Homo sapiens: one gene and its partners. The protein of the gene in region 3 interacts with the protein of the main gene of each other region in a pairwise test. Each region holds a gene or a part of one and is shown on either strand. Other genes may lie near its edges. The genes, in order: YWHAG, CHAT and ZC2HC1C.

Region 1 (3,653 bases), on a different chromosome or scaffold from region 3:
AAAGTGCTGGGATTACAAACCATGAGCCTTAGACTTTGAAAAAAAAAATTTTAAGGCAAATTAAACATTTCCACCTTTAAAATCAGAAGATTATCACTTTATAAAACTGTTGTGAAATTAAATGGGAAAAGTACATAAAAATGCTTCCCAAGGTGACAGTAAACGTCAAACTATATTACAATATTTCATCTAAGTGTGTAATTTAAAAAATCTCGTCTTCCCGGCCGGGTGTGGTGGCTCATGCCTGTAATCCCAGCACTTTGGGAGGCCGAGGTAGGTGGATCACGAGGTCAGAAGATTGAGACCATCCTGGCTAACACGGTGAAACCTCATCTCTACTAAAAATACAAAAAGTTAGCCGGGCGTGGTGGTGGGCGCCTGTAGTCCCAGCTACTCGGGAGGCTGAGGCAGAATGGCGTGAATCTGGGAGGCAGAGCTTGCAGTGAGCTGAGATCGCGCCACTGCACTCCAGCCTGGGCGACAGAGCAGACTCTGTCTCAAAAAAAAAAAAAAAAATACCAAAAAGTACCGTTAAGTTTTCCATTGCGGTCCAGACGCGTTTTGGTCATCATTTATTAATACACACACACACACACACACACACAGACACACACACACACACACACACAGCCAGATGATGAAAAGAGAAAACCAAGATCAAAATGCAACAGGGTACCAAAAAATGAAAGTAACAGGTAGTTGTAATTCACTCAGCAAGTGTTTTTGAGAATCTACATGCCACAGCTCCAAATAATGTTGGTAGAAATACATTCTATGTAAGTTGTAAAAATTTAATCTGTTAATGATAGCTTTGTTTGAAGTTGTGCCATATTGTTTGCCCTTCCTCAATAAATAGATCAAGTTCCAAACATCTGAAGTCTTTTTCTACATGGCCAGCAAACGATGAAAAACAAAAACATGCCTGCAGGTGGATCACTTGAGGTCAGGAGTTCGAGATCAGCCTGGCTAACATGGTGAAACCTGGTCTCTATTAAAAATGCAAAAATTAGCCAGGCGTGGTGGTGGGCACCTGTAATCCCAGCTACTGGGGAGGCTGAGGTAGGAGAATTGCTTGAATCCAGGAGGGGGAGGTTGCAGTGAGTTGAGATTGCACCACTGTACCCCAGCCTGGGCAACAGAGCAAGACTGTCTCCAAAAAGCCATCTTCCAAATTGGTAAATAATCCCCGAGGAGGCCAGAAGAGTAAGAAAATACAGATAAAAGACCGATGTGCTGAAAAATGGTGAAGCTGGGTGTACGGGGGTTACTGTACTATTTGTCTTTATTTTGTATGTTTGAAAGTTTCCATTAGTCAAAGGGAAAAAAAAGGCAATCACTCCAAAGAAGCATAAGGGAGATGGGCCCTTGCCTCAAATAAGCTGGCATCGAGCCTACCCCTGCTTCAACCTCATTTTCCTTCCTAGAGGACAAAGGGCAATGGGTGCCTTTTGAATTCTGAAACATGTATACATAATACCTATTCAAACACATCTTTCAAAACTTTCAAGGTCCTGTACTAGTGAGGACCTTAAACATTATTCTTAGCTGGTTTTCCAGCAATTCCCCTCTTGGGTCTGTCTTAACGTACGAATTGTGCCTGAAAGATACCAGATACTCCTCCATGTACAACTCATTTATGGGGACATGACCATCCTAAGTGGAGGAGCTTACTGAATGCCTACTGCTTTTGCACCATCATAAAGTTGAAAAATTGTCAGGTTAAGGTCAGGCGCAGTGGCTCATGCCTGTAACCCCAGCACTTCCAGAGGCCAAGGCGGGCACATCACCTGAGGCCAGGAGTTGGAGACCAGCCTGGCCAACATGGGGAAACCCCATTTCTACTAAAAATACAAAAATTAGCCGGGCGTGGTGGTACATGCCTGTAATCCCAGCTACTTGGGAAGCTGAGGCAGGAGAATCGCTGGAACTCAGGAGGCAGAGGTGGTAGTAAGCTGAGATCGCGCCACTGCACTCCACCCTGAGCAATAGAGCAAGACTGTCTCAAAAAAAAGAAAAGAGAAAAGAAAAATCGTTAAGTTAAACCATCTGAAATCAGGGACCATCTATACCCACACATCAATATTATTTACAATGTAAATTTGGAAACAGCCTGAATACTAAGCAAAAAAATAATTAAATTATGATATATCCACAGGATTATTCAGCTACTGAAAATAATGACAGAATATCATTGAAATGATGTCAAGTGAAAAAAGCAAGGTGCAAAAGAATATAAACTGTAGAAAAAGACACGATGGAAATATCCCTGCATGTGAATCATTATGGTGATTCTTCTTGTCATTTCCCCCCGAAATTTCTAGCATCCTGAAAGGCCACCAACATTTTTGTCTTCAGTAGTCAATCCCATTGTTCACAGCCTTCCAAAGACTACAGACTCCCTTAAATAGGCATGGCATTCCAAGATCCAAGATATTCTAGAATATTCCTTCCCTACTCCCTTGTCCCCACTAGCTTTCCTCGCCTTGGAATGCCCTTTTCTGTTGTTCGTATTCTCCTCTCCTGTTCATTCTTCTCGCCTTTCTGAGTAGGGTCTTTTCAACCTAGTAGGAAAAATAACTTCCAGTCTTAACCTCTATTACACAGATACAAGACCCAATGTGAAGGTTTGAAAATAATAACATCTATTCTCTATAGTAGGGGTCCCCAACGGGTCCATGGCCTGTCACGAACCTGGCTGCAGAGCAGGAAGTCTGTCACTCCCCACTGCTCGAATTACCACCTGAGCTCCGCCTCCTGTCAGATCAGCGGTGGCATTAGATTCTCAAAGGAGTGCCAACTCTACTGTGAACTGCACACAAAAGGGATGTAGGCTGCATGGTCCTTATGAGAATCTAATGCCTGATGATCTGTCACTGTCTCCCATCACCCCCAGACGGGACCATCTAATTGTAGAACAAGCTCAGGGCTCCCACTGATCCTACATTACGGTGAGTTGTATAATTATTACATTACATACTACAATGTAGCAATAATAAAGTGCACAATAAATGCAATGTGCTTGATTCATCCCCAAACCATCCCCTTACCCCTCACCCCACCCAGTCCATGGAAAAACTGTCTTCCATGAAACGGGTCCCTGGTGCCAAAAAGGTTGGGGACCACTGCTCTTTAGCCTACCCAGGCCAGGCGGGCCCTCACATTATAACATACTGCCAATGAGTATGGGGTTATCCGCATGGCTACTCACTATGCTGCACCTCCACTGCAAAGACATGCTCACTGCTTCATGTTAGATTGCTACAAAAGCAGTCTGTATAGAAACAGTCAAAAATTCAAGCTGATTTCTACATTCTTAAAGAACTAGCACCATAGGCATTTTGTTTCCCAGATCTGGGTTTTTTAAATATGGTAGCTTTAGAGTCATATGAGTAATTCCTTTCAGACAGCTCAAGAAATGTAAATCATCTCTACGGCTTCAAAAGAAACCTGGCTTTTTAAAGCCTTCCCCTCGCTCCCTTAGCCATTCCTCACTTCCCTGCCCACGGCAGCTGCTCTTCATACTCAGCTTGCGGCAGGTTGGGGGTGGATCAGTGACTCCTCTTCAGCTACTGTCATTACGTGTTCAGCTGGCCACTGCTGTCACTGTCATACTCCCAACTCGGACACCCCTGCTCAGAGGAAAGCTGGGTACC
Region 2 (3,653 bases), on a different chromosome or scaffold from region 3:
CTTCATCCCAGCTTCCACTTCTGATAGCTTTGAGCCCAGTGATTTTGCCTTAGGGTGGGGCTGAATTCCTACTCCAAGCCCTGCAAGTCCCAGCTCCAGCTGCTATCACTAGTTCAGCCTTGGAGCCTTAGGCACCATGTTCTCCACTGGCCTGAGACAATGCCATCCTCCCTGGGCAGGCATCCTCCCTCCCGCCCCAGCCAGCCTTCGGGTGGCAGAGCAACACACCTGACTTCAGGTGGTTGCATGTGTTTCCCCTCTCCCACACTTGTCTTTTTGCCACTCCTCTTCCCCCTTCCCCCTTCCCCTTTCCCCCAGCCCTCATTTGAAACCCTGAGCAGAATTTTCTGGCTTCTCCCCAAGAAGCTGTTCACTCCATTGCCCTGAATTCTGCAGCTGACAAACATCTATTGTCACCTCTGGTCCACTGGCATGCTTCTCTACCCACCCCATTGGGCTGTGGCTTCCTTCAGAGCAGGCTCTGTTTCTCCATCGTCTCTGAGTCCAGCCCAGGATCTGACTCACATGAACTGCCCAGGAAACATGGAGTTTTGGAGCATTGATCTGAGACTCCCAGGTCCAAAGACACTCCTTAGCACAGGGCCAGAAGTCCAGGAGAGTCTGGGGAGGATCCCTGGGGGGTTGAGATGTCTGAGCTGCGATTTCCTGCTTTATTCCTTTTTACCCACTGCTGATTCCCTGTTAGCCAGGCTAAGTCACAGCGCACTGTCAGAGCCTGGAAGAAGGGGAGCAGTGTCTGGCAGAGGATCTAGCCAGACTTGTGGGCCCTTTTGGCCAGGTCACTAACTGGGCTGGGCTTTCTGTAGGTGCTCACCCACCCATCACACAGACCACCCCCCCCACCGCAAGAGATGGAAGAACAAGATCAGCTGGGTTGGGGGCCCAGACCTGGCTCACTGGGGTTGGGCAGGGCAGTCTGGGATGCTGTCCAGATCCATCCTCGCATCATTCCCCAGGGCAGGAGCAGCCCGTAGTTGGCACTGACACCCCACTGTTGCCAGAGAAGTGAACCCTAGAGGCAGGATCAGACAGGCAGAGGGCCGTCATTCATCCATCAGCAGCAGGGGCAGAGAAGGAGGTGCTTTTAAGGGGCCCATTCACTCTGCAGCCTATGGGGAGGAACCCTTTACTGTCTCATGGAAACTCATCACTGCACAAAGAAGCCCCTGAAGGAAGGTGCCTCACTGTCTACCAGTGTGTCCCAGGAACCATATTGCAGAATTCTGGTCATTAGGGCAGCAATGAATTATGTCTCTTATCCAAAGCCATCTTTTATCCTTCCAAATCTCTCCACAAGAGTACACCCTTCAGGTCCGGAGATCAGCTAGATTCTGGAGCCCCAGCTGAGAACAGTTTATAAATTAAGACTGACCAGGAGACAACAATATCAATAACAGGACTATTTCATCTTAGATCTATCCTTTATGGCTTAAAAGCACTTTCACGTACATTAGCTCTTTAATCCTATGAAAGGCAGGGTTTGCTACCCCCATTTTACAGGAGAAGAAACTGTACAATTTAAGCAATATTATTATAAGTTCTGCCTTCCTATTGTCACTGGCCAAGTGAGGGACAAGAAGAGGAAACGAATGGAAAAGGGAGTGAAAGGGAAGGGAGAGAACGACCCAGGAGAAAGAAGCAGAGTGGACATGGAAGACTGATTTTAGCTCCTAGTCTGCCATCAGATTTGTATGTGACCTTGGACCAGCTGCTCCACTCTCTGGGACTCAGTTTCCTCATTCATAAATGGGAAGTCACAAAATTGAAGCCACACAGAAGCCTTCTGTGGTGAACGCTGCTGGTGAACTGAGAGGCACAGCATGCGTATAGAAGGGTGGAGTTGGGGGTTCTTCCTAGACTCTAGCCACACTTTGGGGCCCCCAAAGAATATGGGTTTCCTCTTGGGAATTCCTCTGGAAGTATAAGATAGCGAGGTCATAACATTTTAGATGTGCCTATTTGAGGCCAGTTGTTCCCCCATTTAATTCTCTCTGTGTTCCTCTCAGGTAGGAATTGTTATTTATGTCCTATGGATGAGGAGCAGAGGCTTGGAGAGATTCGGAGAGGAAGGACATCCACTGCATCCCCACCCCTGCCCCTAACACCCACATGAAACAAAATTCCCTGCCTGGGTTTTATAAGTAGGAGGGACTTATAAGAAGCTCAGGGCATGAATCATCTTCTGAGGAACCCTCTTTTAGAATTCTAGTCATTAGGGCAGCACTGAATTATGTCTCTCATCCAAAACCATCTTTTATCCTTCCAAATCTCTCCCTAAGAGTGCCCCCTTCAGGTCCAGAGATCAATCAGATTCTGGAGCCCCAGCTGGGAACAATCTCTAAATTAAGAGTCACCAGCAGCCAACAATATCAATAACAGGACTATTTCATCTTAGATCCATCCTTTATGGCTTAAAAGCACTTTCATATCTATTTTCTGTTTGATCCTATGAGAGATAGGGGTTACTACTCCCATTCTACAGAGGAAGAAACTGAGGCACAGAGGGAGGCTGATTTGCCCAAGTTTGCAGAGCTGGTCAGTGGCAGGGTCAGGGTAGAAACCCAGGTCTGTCTGATGCCAATATCACCGTATTTTCCTCTGCACTTTATCCCTTTCTGGGGACAGAGCACAATGAGGTCAGGGACGCCAAACAGGAACTTCCTAAATTCATAATTTTGCTGAGCTGAGCCCTAGAAATGGAGGGGTCCCAGGGTAGAGAACAACACAGGGGCAGAACAATACAGATACTAGGGACCAACTTGGGGACAGGCATGGGGCGCACATACTAGAGGCACAATGCCTATGAACCCTTTCTTCCAGGGGCTGCCCAAACTGCCCGTGCCCCCGCTGCAGCAGACCCTGGCCACGTACCTGCAGTGCATGCGACACTTGGTGTCTGAGGAGCAGTTCAGGAAGAGCCAGGCCATTGTGCAGCAGTTTGGGGCCCCTGGTGGCCTCGGCGAGACCCTGCAGCAGAAACTCCTGGAGCGGCAGGAGAAGACAGCCAACTGGGTAAGAGGGGCAGACAAGGAACCCATAGAAGAGGGGCGGGAGGCAGACCTGGAGACAGAGGGATCTCGGTGAGAGGCAGGTAGGGGACAAAGACAGGGCAGAAGGAGAGATGAGGGACAGGGATGGGGGATAGGTGTGGGAACAGGCAGGTGGCATGGATTGGAGGACAGGAAGGGACAAGGATGAGAAACAAACAAGATGAGGAATGGGAAATACGGATAGAGAAAGAGGCGGACAAATCGGGGACAGGAATTGGGACAGATGAGGACAGAGATCGCATTAGGAAAGAAGAGAGGGTGAAAGGCAGGAAGAAGACACCTGTAAGGACAGGCAGAGGACAGCGATGTAGCACCAAGCCACCAGGATGGGGACTGGGACAGAAGAAAGGAGACAGGAGGGCACAAAGGTGAAGGACAGGCCTGGTGGACTGGGAAGCTCCTGGCACATACCTGGGGCTTAGCATATATTTGTGGAATGAATGAATTAATGCTCTGGTGAAGTGTCCCGATTTTCTCTCGGGGCTGTCAGGATGGGACTGTTTGGGGGGATGTGACGGCCTTCCCTGCCCTCCCCGGCAGGTGTCTGAGTACTGGCTGAATGACATGTATCTCAACAACCGC
Region 3 (3,653 bases):
AAGAGTTGCAGAAGGAACAGAGAAAGCACGAGGAGAAAATTATTGTTGTTTTGTTTTGTTTTGTTTTTGTTGTTGTTGTTATTTGAGATGGAGTCTTGCTTTGTCACCCAGGCTGGAGTGCAGTGGCGCAATCTTGGTTGACTGCAACGTCAGCCTCCTAGATTCAAGCGATTCTCCTATCTCAGCCTCCCAAGTAGCTGAGACTACAGGCGTGCGCCACCACGCCCGGCTAATTTTTGTATTTTTAGTAGAGATGGGGTTTCACCATATTGGTCAGGCTGGTCTTGAACACATGAGATCAGGTGATCCACCTGCCTCAGCCTCCCAAAGTACTGGGATTATAGGCGTGAGCCACAGCACCTGGTGAGGAGAAAATTATTAAGGAAATAATACAATTAACATTCCTAGAATTAAAGGTCACACATTTTGAGATTGAAATGGCTTACCAAGTATCTAGCACAATTATTGTAAAGTTTCAGAATTTCAAAATAAATAGAGAATCCCGTAGCCTTTTAAAAAAAAAGGTTTCTTGTAATGGAACAGGAATCAAAATGGCATTAGATTTCACAACAATACACTGGATGCTAAAAGCTAGTGGGAAATACTTTAAAAGTTCTAACAGATAATCATTTTCCTCCTAGAATTCTGTACCTAGCCAAATCATCAAATGGGAGCCTGTCATATAGATAGTGTCATTCATTCCAAGACAATATACCTGCTATGCACCCTTCTTAGTAAGCTTCAGCAAAGGAAGGAGTAATGCAAGAAAAAGGAAGACACAGGATGCTGGAAACAGAGGACCCAACAAAGAAGAGAAGCAAAGAGAAGTTCCAAGAGAATGAGTTTGCACCAGGCCTAGAGAATACCCAGTCCAGGTTGGAGCAGAAGGGATCAGAGTGGCTGAAGGGAGGTTTTCAGAATTAAAAAATCAAACTGATAGATTATGAGAGGTGTTTGAGCATTACAAAAACGTTAACAGATGTCTGATATCAGATGGATCGTTGCGGGGGAGAAAAAGACAGGTATGTAGAAAATGAAGGAAATGAAAACATACGTCCATTATTAATTTTAGGTACATGTGGGCAGAGACAGAATTTGTTCACTCATTAATGAACAAAATTTACTTGATCATTACAATGTGAAAGCTAACTACTTTTAACCAAAAATTGTGATTCGACTACAGTGGAAGGATAAGAGAAAGAGAACAGTAGGAGAGAGGGAATATGAAAGAGAACTTCACTCCCAGCTTCCATAAGAAGTTACCAGGTAGAACAGGCACCGTGGCTCACGCCTGTAATCCCAGCACTCTGGGAGGCCGAGGTGGGCAGATGACTTGAGGTTAGGAGTTCAGGACCAACTTGGCCAACTTGGTGAAACCCTGTCTTAACTAAAAATACAAAAATTAGCCGGGCGTGGTGGCACTCGCCTGTAAGCCCAGCTACTCAGGAGGCTGAGGCACAATAATTGCTTGAACACGGGAGGTGAAGGTTGCAGTAAGCCAAGATCAAGCCACTGCACTCCAGCCTGGGCGACAGAGACTCCGTCTCAAAAAAAACAAAACAAAACAAAAAAAAACAGGTAATGTAGAAAATTGATAAATCAAGAAAATAAGCATATTATTTGGAAATATGGAAAGGCAGACCAGAAGAACCATCTAACAGAACTGAAGGCTGCCTCCGGGGGCTGAATTAGGGGTTCCATTATAGGTCATTCAGTACTACATGTTTTTTAAATGCATGCAAACACTATTAAATTTTTTAAAGAGAAAAAAGACAACTAGCTCTTGGTGATCTGGCATTGTTAATGATGAATAATAGGAAGAGATACTATCAAAGGAAAAGAAAGGATCCTTCCAGAAAGTCTCTTGCCAAAACAGACAAGAAGGCAAGAGAGTATTAGCGATGGTATCCAGGAACCTTTAAAAGAATTCGAAGACCAGGCACGGTGGCTCATGCATGTAATCCCAACATTTTGGGAGGCTGAGGCGTGTGGATCACAAGGTCAGGAGTTCAAGACCAGCCTGGGCAAGATGGTGAAACCCCGTCTCTACTAAACATACAAAAATTAGCTGGGTGTGGTGGCGGGCACCTGTAATCCCAGCTACTCAGGAGACTGAGGCAGAGAATTGCTTGAACCCGGTAGGTGGAGGCTGCAGTGAGCCAAGATCGCTGCAGTGAGCCGAGATCGCGTCACTGCACTCCAGCCTGGGCAACAGGGCGAGACTCGGTCTCAAAAAAAGAATTTGATCAGGGGAAAGTTCCTCTCAAAGAATTTGATCAGGGGAAAGTTCCTCAAGTATATGAGATCCTTTAGTAATTTACTTCTTATACTCTAATTCCTATAATTTTATTCCTCATTGTACTGAAATTCTATTCAGTTAACACTTATTAAGCACAAAGCACAAAATATGTTCCCTGTCCTCAAAAATGCTTACAGTCCAGGAGAGAGACAGGGTGTACGTCTGCTGGGAGTTACGTGAAGATTAAAGGATACCAGGAAAATCACCTGTTCTTGAGTACTCTAGAGGAATGACAGGAAGGTACAACCACTCAGCTTCCAAAGGCACAGCACTGTGGAATAAGATTTGAGACATTACCAGGGTGGTGCAGGTGCATCTTAGTCTAGGTCCCTTCTGTCTTGGTGTCCTCAATGTCACACATTCCCACAAACTAGTTGCCATAAAGCTGGAGCATCTGATCTCAGGAACCTAATTATTTTGCTTCACCGTAACTGTATTTACGAATTTAAGAAACACAAGATTCTTTTAGGCTCTGGCCAAAAATAAATCGCTACAGTGGGACATAGAGTGAATTCCCAGTGGATTACTGGGTTGAACTGAAAGAAAACAGGAAAAAACAGTAAGTGGTGATCATATTATTATCTGCAAGAGCAAAATGCTGATTTCTTCTTTGGAAACTAGATTTCAGGGAGATGATCTCTGAACATGGATGGGACTTCCTTGTGATTTCTCCAAACTACTAAAAGAAAGAACTCTAATTGTAAACAATTTCTTCTAACAACCATCATATAAATGTGAGTTTTTAAAGGCTCCAGCAAATACACAGAAACTGTAAAGTGCCAATGGACAAGAGGTGCCAGCACAGCGGAGGGAGGGTTGGGAAGAAATGAAAACAGAATGACACTCTCTTATTCTTCTGGAATATTAGAACTAGATGGGGCCTCTGAGATCATATGATCTACGCTTTCCCAAACTTCAATCATCTGCACTTTCACTTCATCCTTACAACTAATTAATATTTTTCTGTAAATTCATGATCCCTGGAAATCAGGGGCTTAATATATTGTTATATTTTCCTAATATAACACTAAACGACGAATCAATTTTTCTAATACAACACTAAACACTAAAACTACTAAAATAAAGTTTGTCAGCATGCCACACCTTGAGAAATAACCATTTTATAAACCAAGTGGCACAACCTTGACATGTCATTCATTTATGAGACAATCTTCTCCAGATATGTCCAAATGTGCCTATGAAGTTCACCTAAATTTATCATGTAAGTGTCACGAAACCCTTACTTTTTCCAACCTGGTTTTTCTAAAGTGAGAAATAATTGGCAAGGGCATGGTTTGTAAGATAACCAGAAAGAAAGTCCTTTTTACCTTCAAGGTGTTTACATTCTAAATGG

The links.
Region 1: the proteins of ZC2HC1C (region 3) and YWHAG interact in binary tests that used the Homo sapiens proteins (3 or more experiments, as listed by UniProt).
Region 2: the proteins of ZC2HC1C (region 3) and CHAT interact in binary tests that used the Homo sapiens proteins (3 or more experiments, as listed by UniProt).

Annotation. Positions count from the first base shown.
Region 1 is NC_000007.14:76,348,839-76,352,491, forward strand, and holds part of YWHAG (14-3-3 protein gamma), read right to left. Parts: intron 1-3,653. UniProt on the Homo sapiens protein: Adapter protein implicated in the regulation of a large spectrum of both general and specialized signaling pathways. Binds to a large number of partners, usually by recognition of a phosphoserine or phosphothreonine motif.
Region 2 is NC_000010.11:49,616,884-49,620,536, forward strand, and holds part of CHAT (choline O-acetyltransferase), read left to right. Parts: intron 1-2,841; coding exon 2,842-3,033; intron 3,034-3,611; coding exon 3,612-3,653. UniProt on the Homo sapiens protein: Catalyzes the reversible synthesis of acetylcholine (ACh) from acetyl CoA and choline at cholinergic synapses.
Region 3 is NC_000014.9:75,072,488-75,076,140, reverse strand, and holds part of ZC2HC1C (zinc finger C2HC domain-containing protein 1C), read right to left. Parts: intron 1-3,653.